3 linked regions of the Homo sapiens genome follow. The protein of the gene in region 2 binds, or shares a complex with, the protein of the main gene of each other region. Each region holds a gene or a part of one and is shown on either strand. Other genes may lie near its edges. The genes, in order: SF3A2, SF3B3 and HTATSF1.

Evidence for each region.
Region 1: SF3B3 (region 2) and SF3A2 share a complex: the UniProt entries of both Homo sapiens proteins name them as parts of the 17S U2 SnRNP complex.
Region 3: SF3B3 (region 2) and HTATSF1 share a complex: the UniProt entries of both Homo sapiens proteins name them as parts of the 17S U2 SnRNP complex.

What each region holds. Positions count from the first base shown.
Region 1 is NC_000019.10:2,239,824-2,243,473, forward strand, and holds part of SF3A2 (splicing factor 3A subunit 2), read left to right. Parts: intron 1-3,558; 5' UTR 3,559-3,595; coding exon 3,596-3,650. UniProt on the Homo sapiens protein: Component of the 17S U2 SnRNP complex of the spliceosome, a large ribonucleoprotein complex that removes introns from transcribed pre-mRNAs.
Region 2 is NC_000016.10:70,558,167-70,561,816, reverse strand, and holds part of SF3B3 (splicing factor 3B subunit 3), read right to left. Parts: intron 1,349-3,650; coding exon 1,226-1,348; intron 188-1,225; coding exon 33-187; intron 1-32. UniProt on the Homo sapiens protein: Component of the 17S U2 SnRNP complex of the spliceosome, a large ribonucleoprotein complex that removes introns from transcribed pre-mRNAs.
Region 3 is NC_000023.11:136,503,947-136,507,596, forward strand, and holds part of HTATSF1 (17S U2 SnRNP complex component HTATSF1), read left to right. Parts: intron 1-417; coding exon 418-517; intron 518-3,650. UniProt on the Homo sapiens protein: Component of the 17S U2 SnRNP complex of the spliceosome, a large ribonucleoprotein complex that removes introns from transcribed pre-mRNAs.

The sequences.
Region 1 (3,650 bases), on a different chromosome or scaffold from region 2:
TTTTTTGTTTGGATCGTCCTGTCTGTATTTTTCAAGGGCTTTTTGTTTTAATTCAGCTTGTCATTCAGCTTCCTGTTCTGGGTTTGTGGTGCAGTGGCTTCCCCCGATAATGAAGGAGGGTGTCAGCGATCTCTTACTGGGATACCCATCAGTCTCTTTGTTCTCGGATGCGTGTGTTTCTCTTTAAGAACAAAGCGGCCGGCAGCTCTGTGTGAGCGCCACTTCTCATCCAGGGAGGTCAACTGCCCAGTGGCCTGGCAAGGAGCGGGCCTTTTCTTTGAGGTGTGGGGACCCTGAATGTCAGTATTTGAGAACTCTTCCTCTGGCGCTGTTTCCCCGGAAAAGACTCCTGGCCTCCCCCGGGGTGGGGGGCGTCCGTGCTGGGCCGCCTGCCACCTGAGCTGTGCGGAGGAACCGCCAGACTTCCCGCTGCCCAGGCGGCAGGTCGTGATTCAGTCCCCCCTTTTCAGCCTGACCCTGGACCCCCTTGCTCTGCTGGGCCTGTCTCTCTAACTCTAGAGGCCCTTTTATACCAGTTCTTCTGGGAATAAAGTTCTGATCTCCTCGAGGGTTGTGGGCGATCCGAGCGTGGGACCTTCCCCGGGGTGCCGCCCCATTTCAGCTGCTGAGGAGGGACAGTGTGGGTGTTCGGTGGCTGCGATGGCTTGGGTTCGGATGGTTTCTGGTTTTCGGATCAGAGCTTTACTTGGTGAGTGGTTGAGTATTGGTCTGGGTTTAGGTTTCAGTGGGCCAGACTCCACAGGTGCTCCCTGTGACAGCTGGAGCTTGTGTCCTGAGCCAGCCACTGGCCGCTGGGGCGTTCTGTCTGGCCAGTTTTAAGAAGTAACTTGGCTTGCCCTAGATGGATTTGAACTCTTGGCTTTGTTAGCATTTTGCCATCTAAGTTCCTTCTCCAAGTCCTCCCAGCCATCGTGTCATTAGAACGTTCTGGAAATGTCACTAAAATGTGCCCGGAAATAAGTGCATCAAGATAGATTGGTGGCTCTTGGTGTGGCCATCTGCACCTGTCCTGGCCCCAGAAGCTGTGCTGCCTCTTCCGCATGGAGGAGCAAAGCGCAGGTCGCTCCTGAGGCTGAGCTCCGCTCCTCCTGGGCCCTGGGTCCTCCGCAGACACGTCCCACCCACTGCTCTTCTCTCTGCCAGAAGCTGCCGGCCATGAGGACGCATGGGTGGGCGCTGTGGAGAGTGCAGGCTTGGGGGTAGAGACCAGTGATGGCTCTGCAGAGCTTAGCCTCAGAGTAGGGGCGTGGTCCAGGAGAGGCCACGACAGGGACAAGCAGGGCGTTCGCATGCTGTTGAATTCCTTCATGACGAAAGGAGCAGGTCGTCCTCCCGGGAGAGGGGAGCGCTTGATGACGCCCCGAGATCTGTGTGTGGGAGTGCCTCTCAGCACCAGGCCCCTCCTGGGTTCTTGGAGTGCATCCGTGAAAGAAGGCCGATTCCCTGCCTTCTCACACGTTCCCCCGAGCGAGGGCTTGGTTCGGTGCTGAGATGCGTGGAGGACTGTGGTTTCTGTGATGTGTGGAGAGGCAAGTGCGGCTGCGGCCTGGTGGGAGGCTGCTTGCTGGGCTCCCCACGCACGTCCCCTGATGTGAGTTTCATGTCACTTGACCAGGAAATGCTTGAATGTCCTCCAGAGAAAAATGAGGCACTTCATGAACCTGTCCGGGCGGCACCCACACAATCCTGCCCGCCTGTGGGCCGTCCGGAGACAGAACCTCCCAGGCAGCTGTAAGCTGTTGTGGCAGCAGGGACTGTAGGAGTTGGCGTGGCCTGCAGCTGACGGCGCCAGCATGGAGAGGGTGCAGTTCTCCCTGGTCCTGAAGAATGTGTGGCCAAGAAGCCCGAGGCGGGGAGGGTTCCTTGGGGCCAGAGGGTGGCGTTCCCAGCAAAGGACAGTCCTTCTGGTGTCACAGTCTCCTTTTTCACACTGGAATGTTCTTTGTTTTGTGAAGGGATGGCGATGGTCACAGTGGTGGTTTCTCGAAGTTTACGTGACAACATGTAAAAATGGGCATCTCTAGGTGGGCTTTTGTGACATCTGAACTTCTGATGGGGCAGCCGTGATACTGCAGTGAGCTGGGAGGTCCACCTCACCAGTTACCATGCTTGATCATTTTCATAAACTTGCCCAGGGAATAAAAACTGGTTGGGGAGGGCTCCTGGGCCCCCATAGAGTAAGGGGTGACTTCAGGCCCCACCACAAGTCAGCAGTACAGCTGGCCTGTCCCTCAGCATGCCCCTGCACACCTGCGGCCACTGTGGCCTGTCCCTCAGCGTGCCCCTGCACACCTGCCGCCACTGTGGCCTGTCCCTCAGCGTGCCCCTGCACACCTGCGGCCACTGTGCCCTGTCCCTCAGCGTGCCCCTGCACACCTGCAGACACTGTGACACATCACTGCAGACGCAGTAGTTCAGATGACACGGCTGTATCAGCTTCTGGTTCTGGGGTCAGAGTCCAAACAGTCCACAGGGCTCCATTCCTTCTGGAGGCTCTGGGGGACAACTCGTTTCCTGCCTTTCCCAGTGTCCAGAGGCACCTGTGTGCCTTGCCTCGGGGCCCCTTCCTCCCCATTCACAGCCACAGCGCAGCCTCTCTGACTCTCAGCCTCCCGCCTCCTCTCATGAGGTCACCCAGGATCACCTGCCATTTTAAGATCCTCAAGCCCACCTGCACATCCCTTTTCTGCCATGAGGGGACATGTTCACAGGTCCCAGGGATTAGGATGTGGACATCTTTTGGGGGCAGTGATTCACTCAGTCTCATGGGCCCCATCTCTCTGAGCTCACCCAAGACCCTTAAACCAGGGCCCGGGGCCAACATTGAGCAGGCAAGGGAAAGACTACCAGGAGATGAGAGGAGGCTGCCTGGAACTCAGATTTGCACAGAGCCTGAAAGGGCGTGGGAGACCTTGGCAGAGGCCTGCATCAGGAAGAGGATGTTGGGGACTCAGCAGAGCCCCCTGCGCCACAAGCAGATGTGGCAGATCTCCCAGGTGTTACTCAGTGAGGATGCGAAGATCAGTGTCCTCACTGATCTCCGCCTAACAAATTTACATCGAGCCCAAGAGATTAGGTTGGGACAAGTAAGCGTAGCCAACCAGAGAGGGAATTCAGAGGAAGGCGTGAACACTAGGGGCTTGGGCAGTCCGGGATGGCTTCCTGGAGGTGGTGACTCGTTTGTGAGATCTTGGTCTTGTCTTCCCTTTATGCCTTCTCTGGGCTCCCTATTACAATTTCAGGTCTCCAGGCCTTGGCACCCTGGGCTGGAGCGGCTTCCTCTCCATCCCTCATGCCTGGTCACTTGGAGACAGGCTCCAGCTTCCTTGTGTCTGTGCCTGTCCACAGTGGGCCTCAGCCTCCTGGAAGAGACTGGGTGCGCTATGGGGTGGCCCCCTCAGGGCTGGTTAGACCCTGGCGCTGGGAGTGCAGGGTGAGGGGCAGTCTCGAGGGCTCCAGCCCAGCCCGCCCAGGGAGGTCCCAGCAGCAGCCCCGAGTTCTGAGCCATCTTCCTCACTCTCCTCTTGGCCTCCACAGGTGTCTCCCAGTCTGCTAAAGCCCTAAGGCCATCACCATGGACTTCCAGCATCGCCCCGGGGGCAAGACCGGGAGCGGGGGCGTGGCCTCCT
Region 2 (3,650 bases):
CCTGCTGAGCTTCAAACATGAGACTCACTCACCGTAGGGTGTTGGTGGAGATGGCCACAATGCCCTCGGGACACTGTTCCGAGGCAAAACCCGATGCAAATTCCAGTGTCTCGTAAGACAGTGGGGTGAGATGGAAGCGAGATTGGTAAGAATAGCTCAACCATGAGCGGCTTGACATGGCCAATACCTGAGGGGAAAAAAAAAACCCAGCTCCAATAAGGTTTGGGAAAAAATACAAATATGGTATAAGCTGACCAAAAGCCCTATCCCCAAATTTCAGTCTGCAGAGTATCCTAAGATATTCTAGAAATATAACAGGCTATCTTAAGAAAAAGAGGGCTAGAGAGAGGCACTATGGCTTAGCATATGTGAAAAGCATGGGCTACGAGCCATATGATCTAGACTCACCATTTCATCTCTCTAAGCCTGCTTCCACGTGTGTAAAATGAAAACAGTACCACAAGGCTGGACAGCTGCAAGAATTAAATGGAATGAAGGCCAGGTGCGGTGGCTCATGCCTGTAATCCCAGCACTTTGGGAGGCCACGGCAGGCGGATCACCTGAAGTCAGGAGTTCGAGGCCAACCTGGCCAACATAGTGAAACCTCATCTCTACTAAAAATACAAAAATTAGCTGGGCGTGGTGGCATGCGCCTGTAATCCCAGCTAATCGGGAGGCTGAGGAAAGACAATTGGTTGAACCCAGGAGGCGGAGGTTGCAGTGAGCCAAGCTTGCACCACTACATTCCAGCCTGGGCGACAGAGTGAGACTCCATCTCAAAAAAAAAAACAACAAAAAACAGAATTAAATGGAATCAATTAGCACAGTGCCCAGAAACACTAACATTCTTAACTACAAAGGACACAATGTTTCCCAGTCTCTTTCACATTAGGTAGTAAACGTGACACTGATCTAAGACTGGGATAAAACCTGAGAATTCTCATGGCTAGTGGTGTCCTAGAGGGGAGGTTTCCAGCCCTATTTGACCAGCCAGAGGGCTAAAGGGATCGATATCTCTACCCAGCTATAACCAAATCATGACATGGTGCGATGGAGCCCCAGTGAGGAAGCTCTAGGTTAGGAAAACTCAGGACTTCTCACATGAAGGAAACCAATCAAGATGGAGTGGCAAATTAGTGACAGTGAAGCTTACAGCAAAGATTGTTCTCAGATGGTGCCACTAAAATCCCAAAGATGTTGCCTGTCCCCAACCTTCATTACTTACTGCCTCCTGGCCTTGCATTCGGACTCGGAAGAGCTTCACAGGACGGGACCCCAGGTACCGAGTGCGAGTATCAGACAAATCCCCAGTGACAGGGTCCAAGACAGTCCTCAGCAGCACACCGTTCTAATCAAAAGGAGAGGAGCAGGTGAAGCCTGATGGAAGCTTATCAGCTATGATGGGAAAACCTCTCCCTTGGGTACTTCACATAAGAAATTAGAGCAGATAGAAAGAAATGACTTGGGTGTTTAAAAAAGATCCTAATAATCCGATAGCCATTCATTTCATTCTCTCAGTAAATCACTTAATCATCCAAAGTTATGGAGCATCTACTAAGTAAATACACACTTATTTTTCACTATATCTTCTTAATATTTCTTTTTACCAAGTATATTAAATCCTTCTTCACTACTGTATATTTCAAATAAATAATTAAATAACCACAAAGACCATGGTCCCTAAACAGCATTTCCTCTTAAAGGAACAAGGTTCCTAAAAGGAATGACTAGTTTGGGGCAGGGGCAAGAATGTTCCAGACACATGTGGGGATACTTTATTGTGCAACAAGGCAAGGAAACCCCTACAAATAGTGGGGTCATGTTAAAAGGACAAAAGAACTAACTTCAAATAGAAATTCCCACTTTTCTAGAATGAGTCAATTTACCACCCCCCCGCACCCCTCAAAAAAAAAGAAGCCAGGTGAGGTGGCTCACATCTGTAATCACAGCACTGTGGAAGCCAAGGAAGGACGACTGCTTGAGGCCAAGAGCTAAAGACCAACCTGGCCAACATAGCGAGACTCTGTCTCTGTTTAAAAAAAAAAAAAGGAGTTTTCAGCACAAATGTATAAAAATCCACAAGTTTATGATGTTACTCTATTTTTTTAAATTTTTATTTATTTATTTATTGAGACAGGTTCTCACTCTGTCACCCAGGCTGGAGTACAGTGCCACAATCTTGGCTCACTGCAGCCTCCACCTCCCAGGCTCAAGCAATCCTCCCACTTCAGCTTCCCAAGTAGCTGGGACTACAGGCATGAGCCACCATTCCCAACTATTTTTTGTATTTTTGGTGGAAATGAGGTTTCGCCATGTTGCCCAGGCTAGTCTCGAACTCCTGAGCTCAAGCAATCCACCCACCTCAGCCTCGCAAAGCGCTGGGATTACAGGTGTGAGCCACAGCACCTGACCAATGTTACTCTAAAAAACAGCAAAAAACCCACTTTACTGGGCCCCACTGAAAGGAGTGCTGTGGCCCTCACTCCTTACTCTGAAAACAGGTGAACAATGGGAAAAAAATTATTTATCCTTTTCCTGTATGAACCGTACTTATAGTAAGCAAAGAAATGATGCGAATTTTGTCTTTAGAATTCCAACTAATTAAATCCAAAAAGAAATAAATCATTTTCCAACCACTAATGAAAGAATGAACCTAGGCAATGTGTGTAATAGCTGTAAGTAAAGGGTTGACGGGAACTTTAACACAGATACAGACAAACATCCCAACATCACTGTGAGTGGGACAACCAGACACTACACTCCTCCTGACGTGATGCAACAGGAGTAAACAGCACCACCTATTAAGTATTCCTGTCCCCCTCCCCCAATAATTAAATCTGAATCTAACCAACTTCTTCTTCTGCAATATCCGATACTATAGCTACCCCAAGCCACATGTGGCTAGTCAGAACTGAGACAGGACCAGGCATGGTGTCTCACACCTGTAATCCCAGCCCTTTGGGAGGCCAAGGCGGGTGGATCGCTTGAGCTCAGGAGTTCAAGACCAGCCTGAGCAACATGGCAAAACCCCATCTCTACTAGAAACAAGAAAAATTAGCCGGGCGTAGTGGTGCACACCATAAACCCAGCTACTCAGGAGGCTGAGGCATGAGAATCGCTTGAACCCAGGAGGCAGAGGCTGCAGTGAGCTGAGATCACACCACTGCACTCCAGCCTGGGCAACAGAGCAAGACTCTGTGTCAAGGAAGAAATTTTTTTTAAATAAAGACAAATAAAATTTTAAAGAGAACTAAGACTGCTAAGTGTAAAGTGCCAATACCAGATTTCAGACTTGGTTTAAAAAAGAGAGAAAAAAAGGTGAAATAGCTCAGCAATTTTTATATTAACTACATGTTAGAATGATTTCAGATATACAGAGTTAATAAAACATTAAAACTGGCCAGGCACGGTGGTTCATGCCTGCATTCCCACCAGCACTTTTGGAGGCCAATGTAGGAGGACCACTTGAGGCCAGGAGTTCAAGACCAGTCTGAGCAACACAGCGAGACCCTATCTCTATTTTTTTTTAAAGAAAAAAAAAAAACATTAAAATTACTTTTTTCCTGTTCGTGGCTACTAGAAAATTTAAATTACACCTGTAGTTCACCTTACATTTCTAATGGATGGCATGGTCTAATTCTACCCACCAG
Region 3 (3,650 bases), on a different chromosome or scaffold from region 2:
TGCAACCTGTACCTCCGGGGTTCAAGCTATACTCATGCCTCAGCCTCCCCAGTAGCTGGGATTACAGACGTGCACCACCACGCCTGGCTGATTTTTGTATTTTTAGTAGAGATGGGGTTTCACCATGTTGGCCAGGCTGGTCTTGAACTCCTGGCCTCAAGTGATCCGCCCGCCTCGGCCTCCCAAAGTGCTGGGATTATAGGTATGAGCCACCGCACACGGCCCCCTGCCCATTATTTTTATTTCAGAAAGTTTTCTGACTGGAACTATGACTGAAATACAGTTTGTTGTTGTAAAATCCAGTAATTATCTTTATTAAATACTCAGTAAAGTATTGTATGAACAACTCATTCTTTTCTCTCTCCAACAAGTCTGAAGCAAAATTTACAGTTTGTTGTTACTGCTTCATTGCCTCAGGCAGTTGGATTGGAGACCTGAGAGGCGAGCCGGACCATCCCGGATGCGCCATGAGCGAGTTGTCATCATCAAGAATATGTTTCATCCTATGGATTTTGAGGTAGGAAGTGGTGTGCTTACTGATAGAAATGCTGATAGGCTTTTTTTCTCTCAAGGGAGCCTGGAGCTTGCCTCGCCTCATCTTTGTCTTGTCACCTCCTACGTGTTTGTGCAGCGAGTAGTAAAGGAAGATGGAGCCAAGAAGCTACTTAAGTCTTTTGATTTCCCTTCCCTTTGTTTAGCCCAGTATTGTTTTAAAGTGTATCACAGATAAGACTGTTTAATAACCATACTGCGCCCCAAGCAGCAGCTACTTGGTATGGGAAACCATTGAAAAATATCATCATCAAAAGATTTATGGGAACTGCTTGTGGATTTTCAGTGCAAGCCAACAAGTATGGCCTGATTTTGGTGGGGAGTACCAGCTTCACAATTGTAAATGCAAACTTCAGTTTGGTACTAAAAGTTATAATATTTAATGTCCGTGGAAAATTCCAAGAACAGCAAGTAAAAGTGAATAAGTACATCTGTTATGTATCAACTTTTTTAAGTGATTTTAAAAAAAGTTAATGGAACTGTCCTTCCTCCCCTCAAAAAAGTGAATAAAGGAGAAGCAAAGAACAAGGAGTTCTGAGGAATATTGTCATCAAAGTACCTTGTGTTACATTCTGCCTGTATTCTTATCTCTGTCTACTGGTGTAGACTGACTTTATTGTTGTGGAGAAACAACTCTTTATTCTCTCCCTGGTTCTGAAATTAGTGATAGCAAGTTATACAGAAAGCAGGTTATACAGATAGCAAGTTATACAGAGAAAAATGTTCATAACGTAAAATTCCGTTTTTACCAATAATCTAGTTGTAAATTAGTGCCCATTCCTGACCCTTTTGTGCATTTAAACAGTCAAAATGGTAATATAATTGTAGCTCCCTTAGAGAGGGCCCCAAAATGGACAGTTCAGCTCTATCTCAATGAATAGTGTTGTGATAAGGTTTACTGTGTACCTATGGAGTTTGGGCATCTTTTGAGGTCATTGGAAATATACGTCTGGTTTATTTATGAGATTGATTGATATCTCTTCTGACTAGAAATCTGGAAGAATTTTGAAATATAACAGTTTACAGTTTTACAGTTGCAGTGATAATGAAGTATGGTTTATAAACACGTGCACACCAGATGCATTTTGAAATACTGTTTTTGCCAGCAATAACTTTAAAATGAATGCATAGAATTACAAAAATATTAGCTGGGCATGGTGGCGCATACCTGTAATCCCAGCTACTCAGGAGGCTGATTCAGGAGAATCACCTGAACCCGGTAGGCAGAGGTTATGGTAAGATCGCGCCACTGCACTCCAGCCTGGGCAACGGAGCGAGACTCCATCTCAAAACAAAACAAAATAAAACAAAACAAAGAACCAGATCATAGTCATTAAAGCAGCATATAAAATAAATGCACAGATTGATCACAATATTTAGTCTGCTAAATACAACTCCGGGATTTCCTATTATTTATTACATTTTATCCCCCTGCTAAATAAGTGATTTATTAGGTGACATATTTATTTCTGTGACTCGAGGTCTTTGATTCACACATTTCATACTCCTGCCACCCAAGTGTGAATGTAAATGCAAACCTAATTCAAACTATCTGGAACCTCTGCAAGTAGAAGTCTGTTGTGTAATTTTAATCTATTCTTGTTTCTACCTCCTGCCTTGCTCATTGAAATACCTTATTTGAGTCTAAGGATCACCCCAGGCAGACTTAGCTCTTCCCAGCTTAACAAATATTCTTTCCCCAAAACCACATTTATTCTACCTTGACCCCTATACATTCCCTCCAGTGAATATTTTTAAAGATAGAAGTTTCATGCTTGCAAATTCCTGATTTTTTTTTTAATCTTCTTGGTTTAGTATAAACATTACTTTGGAGTTACAGAGCCTTTATACTACCCTATTTTGTTTCCTTCATAGCATTTATTATTATCTGAAGTAATTTTGACTCGTCTACTAGAATGTGAGCTCCATGACACCCAGTATTTTGTCTACCTTGTTTGCTGCTGTATTCTCAGTACATAGAATTTGCCTGGCACACAGTTGGCCCTTAATATTTATGTGATGAAGAATTGAAAGAATTGCTAAATGAAACCCTTGTTATTTACAAGCCAGAGTCTTTTCATTCAGCCAGTGGATAAAACATTTTCTCTTCAGCATCTTTGCAAATGAAAGCAAATTTTCTTCTTAGATGCTTATTCCACAAAGGATGGTGGGACATTGTCTTGGCCGTGGCGGAATTAGTTCACAAAGAAATGCTTGGTGATGCTATCCTTGTTTGCCCACCTTCCTGGCCTCACATGGTCCAACTAGCTTGCTGAGAGCGTGTCAACAAGAAGAGTGACAAATAATCTTGCTTTTGTTCACTGTCTCTGAGCACCTGAACCTCAGTGTAGACCTGTGCTGTCAGATATGGTAGACTGTAGCCATGTGTGGTTAAATGTAAGTTAATTAAAATGAAATAAAATTCAGTTCATCGCTTCTACTAGGCACATGTAGCTAGTAGCTACCATATTGGATAATGCAGATATACAACATTTTCATTATCACAGAACCTTCTATTGGACAACACTGGTATAGACATTATATAACTTTTGATAGAAGTGTCCAACAGGAAAACCTGCTTTTATTGCATGTTTTGGGGGAGTGTTTGATTTGACTCAAGACTCCATATGAACCTAAAGAACACACAGCAGCATTGAGCTTTTTAGTGGAAAACAAAAACTGAATTGTCAGGTTATCCTGAGATATCTGAAAGGAGTCAGATTTTGGGTGGAGGGGTATATTTTGATTCCAAACAGTTAGAAGCAACATACCTAAGAATACTGTCTGATCTGAAGGCTAACATTTTTAATGTAACTTCAGAGGGTCTTCAGTATTTAATTCAAATCCTTACTTTAAAATGCATTGCCTGGCAAATTTGAATACCAGGACATGAAGAGTCAAAACTCAAATGCATTAGCCGGGCATGATAGCACGCACCTGTAATCCCAGCTACTTGGAAGGCTGAGGCACGAGGATCACTTGAATCCGGGAGGCAGAGGCTGCAGTGAGCCAAGATCGCGCCACTGCACTCCAGCCTGGGCAACAGAGTAAGACTCTGTCTTCAAAAAAAAAAAAGAAAGAAAGCAAAGCACTGAGAC